Regions from separate parts of the Homo sapiens genome. Here regions 2 and 3 are each linked to region 1. Evidence: fine-mapped expression QTL. A gene starts in region 1. Each other region holds a variant in brackets. All regions are shown on one strand. Distances are from middle to middle.

What was found. PIP is the estimated chance that this variant, and not a neighbour inherited with it, causes the effect.
Region 2: its variant is fine-mapped to the expression of NUP50 in whole blood (INTERVAL, PIP above 0.99).
Region 3: its variant is fine-mapped to the expression of NUP50 in subcutaneous fat (GTEx, PIP above 0.99). The same link has a PIP of 0.9 or more in unexposed skin.

Annotation. Positions count from the first base shown.
Region 1 is chr22:45,162,591-45,165,348 of GRCh38, forward strand. NUP50 (nucleoporin 50) reads left to right here and starts at 1,335. Exons shown (of 8, transcript NM_007172.4): 1 at 1,335-1,706. NUP50-DT (NUP50 divergent transcript) reads right to left here and starts at 1,191. Exons shown (of 3, transcript NR_038956.1): 1 at 987-1,191. RefSeq lists silencers at 847-896, 1,667-1,896, 1,927-2,106 and an enhancer at 1,264-1,786.
Region 2 is chr22:45,100,547-45,103,304 of GRCh38, forward strand. No RefSeq gene overlaps it. Among named protein-coding and RNA genes, the nearest start is that of NUP50-DT, 62 kb to the right of the region's middle. The variant G/A (reference allele first, on the strand shown) is at 1,576.
Region 3 is chr22:45,104,395-45,107,152 of GRCh38, forward strand. No RefSeq gene overlaps it. Among named protein-coding and RNA genes, the nearest start is that of NUP50-DT, 58 kb to the right of the region's middle. The variant A/T (reference allele first, on the strand shown) is at 1,301.

The sequences.
Region 1 (2,758 bases):
CTTTGGCTGTGTTACCTTAGATTTGAACAAGCACTGTACCTAAGGCGGGCGCCTTCCTCCTCCCGCTTTCAGGAATGCCCTGCTCTGCCATTCTTTTGCTTTCTCACTTCTCTAATACACTTGCTTTCACTTTAGTCCGTGGACTCGCCCCGAATTCTTTCCTACGCGACATCCAAGAAGCCTCTCGCTGGGTCTGAGTGGAGACCTCTTTCTGGTAATAAACGGACTAGGGAGATTCGACTTTGAAGGTGAAAACAAAAACCACCATCCAGTTTATAAGAAGGCGCTCGAGGCCGGGAACGGTGGCTCAGGCCTGTAATCCCAGCACTTTGGGAGGCTGAGGTGGTGGGGCGGGGGGAGGGAATCACCTGAGGTCACGAGTTCGAGACCAGCCTGACCAATATGGTGAAAACCCGTCTCTACTAAAAATATAAACATTAGCCGGGCGTGGTGGCGCACGACTGTAATCCCAACTACTCGGGAGGCTGAGGCAGGAGAATCGCTTGAATCCGGGAGGCAGAGGTTGCAGTAGGCCAAGATCGTGCCACTTCACTCCAGCCTGGGCGAACAAGTTAAACTCTCCATCTCAAAAAAAAAAAAAAAAAAAGGGCGGCACTGGAAACAGCTGGGAGTGACAGGGCCAGGGATGAGGGATCGCAAGCTGCTGGTGAGAAAGGAGCTCAGAGGCTGCCTGGCCTACGGGCCAGGAGACCTCAGCGCAAAAAGCGCAGGACTCGTTCCCCTGCTCTACAGCTGAGTGCCCAGGACGGATCTCACTGGCTGAAAAAAACAGAAGAGAAGGCACCCAATGCAAAATCAAATGTCAGCGAACGAGGGGTCCTTTAACAGGCGGCCCACACGGCCCCTCCTGGCGCCGAGACCCAGCCCCTCCGGGCCACCCCGGCCAGGTACGACCAGCAGGGTCACCTGCGCGCGTCCCCCGAGACGGGGCCTCCTGATGTGAAGCGACCCCAGTGGCACCTCACACGATTCCCGAGGGTTGCGGGCGGCCTCTCCTCAGCCCTGCAGCTCCCACACGCGGACACCGCGGGCCTCGGCCATGTCCACTGACCGACCTTCCTCGCCGGAACTCCTCGCGCATCGCCGGCCCCTCAGCGGCGACTAGCGCGCGAACATCCTGGAAGACGCGTTGCCGGCCCCACGTGAGCCGACGCCCCAAAGCGCGGCTGCTGGCGCCGGCTACGAGATCAAGGTCGGCGCGTGCGCGCTTGCGCGAGACCGGCATTCTCAGCCCCGCGCCGGTTTCCAGGGAGCTGGGCGCATGCGCCGCGTAAGGGGCCCGGCCGGCGGAAGGAGGTGCTACTGCCGGAAGCGCCGGCGCGCTTGCGCAGTAGCTGAACGCGGGCGTTTCTTTCCTCCCTTTTTTTCGAATTGGTTTTGGGGGTAGATTCGAGTTACAAAATGGCCGCCCGGAGCGTGTTCGGCGCGGTTCCCCCAGCTGTCTCTGGCTGAACCGGCGCTCTCGCCTCCCTGCCGAACACAGCGTGAGGAGCCCCCCCAGGGATATGGTGTTTGAGTCTCTGGGCTTGCCGAGCACTAAGTCCTCTGAGTTCCGCAGCGCAGCACCGGAAGCGGCCGAGCGCGCTCAGCCCGGCGACCCCTGCGGGCTCCAGACCCCTGCGCCGCTGCGCCCCGGGTTTCGCCGCAACCAAGACCCAGCGAGTGCAGCGGCGGCCGCCGAGGAGGTGAGGAGCGGCGGCGGGCGCGGGAGGAGAAGAGGCTGAGGGCGGGAGCCTGGTGCTGAGAGCCCAGGGCCGGGAGGGCGGGAGCGGGCTCGGGCCTGGGAGGGGAGTGCGAGTGCAGGGCTGGGGACTGGACCCTGGGGAGGGAGGTGCGGGTTCAGCGCCGGGGGACGGGCCCCTGGGGAGGGGTGCGGGGCCGGGGGACCAGACCCTGGGGAGGGGCTTAAGGGGCTGGAGGACGGGACCCTGGGAAGTGGGGTACAGGGCTAGAGGTCGGGACTCTAGGGAGGGAGCCTGGGTCGGGCGCACGGGCCGGGCGGGGCGCGCGGTGGGGGAGCGACGGGTGGAGGGTGGGGTGGGATGACAGCGGCGACGCAGCCCCGGCTGTTTTTGAAGCGGGGCCCGGGCCCCACCGGGCTGCGGCGTCCGACTCGAGTGAGACTCTCCCCTGCGGCCCCGCCGGAGGTAGGGGGCTGGCAGGGCTGTCCTGGCGTGGTCTTCTCCGTTTCCTTCCTAGCGATTCCTCTCGAGCTTCCTCTCCCCCTGGCCGCCCCTCGTCTCTCTTCTCTTGGGCGCATTACCTCTCTGGCCTGTCTTACTGCGTTCCCGGGTTATTCATCACCCATTTGCTCGGTTCCATTAAGAACCAGCTTGGAGATTAGGTATTTCTGTCTCCTTACTTGGCCCCCTTGTTGTTTTCCTCCAACAAGGCACTTCACTATTAAGTGTAGCCAAATCTGTGTTTTCGTTTTAAGGTGATGTTGACAAGTTGAGCTTTCCAAGGGCAGAGCTACACCAGATGCCAGAGACCACATAACTATATCAGGCACAAATAATGTTTTTTTCCAGTTTACCTAGACTTTCAGTCTCCCACCACGTTGCTTCATACCTAGAAATCATGTCTAATTTGGTTTTTTACCCACAAACGCAAACGTTTTTTAAATTCCCTTTTATTGATTGTTTGATTGAGACTGGGTCTTGCTTTGTCACCAGGCCTCAGTGTAGTGGTAGCTCACTGTGTAGCCTGAAGCTCCTGGGCTCAAGTGATTCTCCTG
Region 2 (2,758 bases), 62 kb before region 1:
TCCCTTAGACGCATGCATCCACCCCGTTTCTCCCTTTCAGATATCTCCAGACTTCCAGTGTTCAGCAGGACCTGGGGTGTGGCCGCAAAGTTCCCTTTATGTATTTGGAGCCCAAGGAGGGCCTGTTACTGTGAAATGAAAGCACTTCCCTATCTGCCCCCCACCCCAGGGCCTTTGCCAGCTGCTCCACATTAGTTAAGCGCTTACTACCTACACTTTGGGGATTGAGGGTTTCTTTAGCTTTGAGACTGGGAGGCAGCTTAGCAGTGTAGACAGTTAGCTCATAATTCCTGCAGGGGTACAAGTGCCAAACCAAGTGCTATGATCCCTGGAGAGGCAGCCTCACCCACGAGGGCCTGGGGGCCTGAGTTCAGATCCTCACTCTGCATCTAACAAGCCGTATTGACCGGGGAGGGTCACTCAGCCTCTCCTGCCTCAGTTTCCTGATTCGTGTAACAGGGATAACATCAGCTGGCTTCCCTTGACACACCATCTATTAAACTGATTGATATGAATAAAGGATTTAGAATAGGGTCTTGAAGAAGGCGGTGCTGGACCCACGGACAGTGGCCAATGGGTATTGTTTGTCATCATCATCGTCACCATCACCATTGCTTTCGTCATAATCATCACTGTCACCATCATCAGCGTTCAGAGGAAAGGGGGTGTAGAGGGTCGTGTATCACCCAGAGGTGGATCTTGAGTTAAGCTTCGAAGCAGAGCAGGAGCCAGCTGTGCACGATGATGACATTAACAGCCGGCACTTTCCTCTGTGTTTTACACGCATGACAACGGGTTGACAGAAAAAGAGAGAGCTGGGCATCAGCCAAACAGAAAGTTGTGCACGGAAATACAGAAAAGGACTCGGCGATATTTATGAGCCCATGAAGTACAGAAGTAGTTAAGGATTGGAGTTCCAGTAAGAGCGCATCGCATGCCAGTCTTATCGTGCCTTGCTTTCTGGAATGATGAGACTCCCCTTCTCCCCTCCCCCCTCACCCACTCTGTCTCCCCCTGCCTCCCACCCTCCTACCTCCCCAAACTCTCCATGGACTGTTTAGGCCTTAACAACTCTGGAGAGCTATTAGGATCTATCAAGCGAACAATAATTTACTTCACGAAGTGATGTGTGTGATTTTCACCATTGACTCTAATCGCAACAGAAAATCATTTCAGTCGGCTGAGTGCATAATCTGTGTGTGCTGAACTTCTCTAAGCTTGGACTTACCTAAGGGAGGAAAATGGTCCCCTGGGACCCACTCAAGAGACGCGGAGTAAACAGCGTGCATTTCGTAAATGGGCTGGGGGTGTGCCAGAACCATCGCCGGGGACCCACCGCTGTCAGCCTAGAAGGCCATCGAACACTCAGAAACCATCTTCACAAATCCTTCTAGGGTGAGGTGGGGGGGTGAGGAGTCAGGGGTCGTGCACCTAACCATCAAAGACAGTGTGGATGTCCTGCTCATCTGCCACCGGGTGGCGCAAAGAGAAAAGGAGAGCAGACAGAGCAAGGAGGCACGTGTCCTTCCTCCTCCATCACATCTGCAGACTGAGCCCAAGCATCGGGAGCCATGT[G/A]GCCAGGCAGAAATGGGAAGTCATCTGTGCCCCTTGCTAGCGGACATGGTCCCAGGGACAGGTCCTGTCCTGTCCTGAGGCTGGAACTTCAGGAGTCCCAGGCCAATCATCACGCTACCAACTTGAGGAGCTTGAGATTTTCTAGTTTAGAAAGCAGGTACACAATTGTACATAGAGCACCAGCGTACCCAGGTATAAAGAAAGAAATATGCCAACCTGTTGGCCGTGGCTACCTTTCAGAGACTGGATTATGAGTTTTAGTATTTTCTAAAATTTTCTACAATGAATATGCAAGTAATAATAATAATATAAGATCTTACAAAGAAAAAAGTCTCAAGATTCCACTCTGACCATGTGTCCAAGTTCTAGCAACAAAATTAATGCCTAGGGAATGCCATGGCCAAGTCCCATCAGGACAGGGACTTACTTCACAACATCAAGAGATTTTAGTAAAAAGTGCAGGGGCCAGGGACAGTGGCTGTAATTCTGATGCTTTGAGAGGCCAAGGCAGGAGGATCGCTTGAGCCCAGGAGTTCAAGAACAGCCTGGGCAACATAGTGAGATCCCTGTCTCTACAAAAAAAAAAAATTGTTTTAGATTAGCTGGGAATGGTGGCATGCACCTGTAGTCTTAGCTACTCAGGAGGCTGAGGTGGGAAGATAGCTCGAGCCCAGGAGGTCGAGACTGCAGTGAGCTGAGATTGCACCACTGCACCCCAGCCTGAGCAACAGAGCAAGACTCTATCTCAAAAAAGATGGGGGTTGGGGAGCAACAGAGCAAGACTCTATCTCAAAAAAGATGCAGGAAAAAGAGCACAGAGTGGAGAAGCAGAAGAGATTCTTAAGTTCTTGTCCTATAGGTAAGAGCTAAAACAAGTCACTTGCTGACCTAGAGTCTCAATATTCATGTCCCTTGACTGCAGGCAAAAGCTGGCCTCACCTCCTATGATTAATTGACACTTGTTGCTTCTCCCTGCTCGGGTTCCTTCCCCTTTCCTTTGCTGCCTGCTGCTGTCCTGCTCTGTGTAATTCGGCGTGGATGTCCCTGCTTCCCCCAGGTCAGGCAGGCTCCTGAGCAGCCCCCAAAGCACAGATGTAGTGCCCGATGGGGTGGGGAGGGGATGGCAGCCTGGCAGAGCTGAACACTTGGGGAAAGGGAATTTCTCTCCTTTGGGGCACTCAAG
Region 3 (2,758 bases), 58 kb before region 1:
ACTAGTGGCCCCAGTGGATCAGGCCACCTGGGTCCCTCTGTGGCCCTGCCCATGTGGACACTGGCCTGAGCCACGTGACTTGCTTTAGCCAGAGGTCCAGCAGCGCGTTAAACACACACACGCACTCATGCATGCATGCACTCACACACACATGCACTCACGCACGCACATGCGCGCGCACACACACACACACACACATGCACACCACACACGCTTGATGAACACTCTGTCCTCTTTGAACCCAGAATTTGGGGTCAAGATGAGAGACCATGTGGAGAGGGACTTTAGAGAGGAAGGGAGTGCTCAAAGAATAATAAGAACGCGTCAAAAACCAAGAAGCTGCTTTGGAAAGGTGACCACTGGCCAAATCTAGGACAATCTGAACATAAAAATAAATTATAGTCACAAAAAATTATACTCCATTGAATATAACAGGAAACCAGGAATCCATACAGATATAAAAAATAAATGAATGCACTGAGAATTTGGTGAGGAATGGAGATATTTGCAGAATTTCAAAGTACCTACCCACAAAATGGCAGAGAACATGAAAAAAGAATGACTTTGGCCGGGCATGGTGGCTTACGCCTATAATTTCAGCACTTTGGGAGGCCGAGGTGGGTGGATCACTTGAGGTCAGGAGTTCGAGACCAGCCAGGCCAACATGGTAAAAAGCCCATCTCTAATAAAAATTATCCAGGTGTGGTGGCACACGCCTGTAATCCTAGCTACAGGGGAGGCTGAGCCACAAGAATCACTTGAACCTGGGGGGCAGAGGTTGCAGTGAGTCTAGATCGTGCCACTGTACTCTAGTCTAGGCGACAGAGCCAGACTCCGTCTCAAAAAAAAAAAAAAAAAAAAAAAAGGAATGACTCTATAAGAGAGATGCTGGCAGACACCACTGTTGTCAAGTGATCAAAGTAAACATCAAGTGACAAATCGAAACCAAGCCCCACCCTATGGGAGGCAGTGAGAGAAACAAGGTATCCATTTGCGACAGTGCTGCCAGACTGCATAGTTGCTTGAGTAGGAGGAAGAGCAAACAAAGGGAATTGAGGAGAGGAAAAGAAAACGAATCGTTCGAAAGTGTTATCCTCCCAGGAGAACTGGAGATGTGTGCACCAGAACACCCGAACAGGGATGGTCACGGGAGCGTTACTCATAAGAGCCCAAGAGTCCAAATGTCAGCATCCAGCAGCTCAGCAGTGGACAGACAAGTTGTGGTCTAGCCACACGTTGGAATGTTATTTGGCAATAAAAAGGAATGAGGTACTAATACACGCCACACCATGGATGAATC[A/T]TGAACACAAGATGCTAAGTGGAAGGAGCCAGTCACAGAAGACCATTTATACAAAATGTCCCAAATAGGCAAATCCGAAGAGATGAAAAGTAGATTTGTGTTTGCTTGGGGCTGGAGTGGAGGCAGGAGGAGGGGTGACTGTCAATGGGCGTGAAGTTTCTTTGGGGGCTGAGGAAAACGTTCAGATGGGGGTGATAACTATAGAACCCTGAATACACGAAAATGGAACTGTATCTGTAAAACTGTATACACTGGATTGTATGTATAAAAGGGTGAGTGTTATGGTATGTGAATTATCGCTCAATAAAGTTGTTATTTAAAATAGTAAAAACAAATTGTAGGTAGATTTAAAAGTTGAACTAGTAAAGTACTAGAAGGAAAACAAGCAGAACTTATCCTACGCGAAGGGTTGGACCAAGAGGATGGATGTGATCAGATGTTGTTCTGTATATTTTATTTGAGAGATAACATAGACGGTGAGGAAGCAAAAGGACTGGGAGGCGGGAGGCAGGACCGCTGCAGTAACCCGGGCAAGAAACAATGAGGGTCTGAAGCAAGGGGTAGCAGTGGGCCCTAAGAGGGAAGGAGAGAGACGAGAGGCATTTGGGAGCGAGAACTGAAGGGCCCTGGTGTTGAATGGGTGATCACAGGAGAAGAAAGACCTCCTTCCTTCCCATTCTTCCCATTCTTCCAACGCAGAGTAAGTGCCACTTCCTCGGAAGCCTCCCTGACTCCAAAGCTCGGTGGGGTTCCCCTCCAGGGTCCCCCCACCTCCATATCAGAGCACTGATCACAGGGACTGGCCATGGTCTCTACTGCCCTCTGGACAGCTGGGCAGCAGGACCTGGGTCCTGTTCACCATCAACCCCAGCACCCGTCAGCATTCAGCATGCTATGAATGTTCAATTAGTATTTGCTGAGCAAAAATGCGAATGGATGAACCAGCCTGTGATACTTGCCAGGTTTTGGCTTCTGAATTCATTCACTATGTTGGCCATTCTACCATGAATGTACTCCAGCTTACCCCTGAGACATGAAGGCAGCTGGGGTTAATGTGGAGCCTGCAGCCCATGCCTTCTGCTCCTGGGTCTGTGCTCCATGTGAGGTTAGAGGATGCCAAGGACTGAATGTGTGTGCCCCCCTCTAATTCCTCTGTTGAAGCCCTAATCCTCAATGTGATGGTATTAGGGGTGGGGTCTTTGGGAGATGATTAGGCCACGAGGGTGGAACCCTCATGAGTGGAATAGCGTCCTTAGAAAAAAGACTCCAGGGAGTTATCCAGCTCTTTCCACCCCATGAGGACACAGCCAGAAGACGGCCATCTGCAAACCAGGAAGGGAGCCCTCCCCAGATGCCAAATCTGCCAGCACCCTGCTCTTGGATTTCCCAGGCTTGAGAACTGCGAGAAATAAATGTCAGTTGTTGAAGCCACCCAGTCTGTGGTATTTTTGTCGTAAC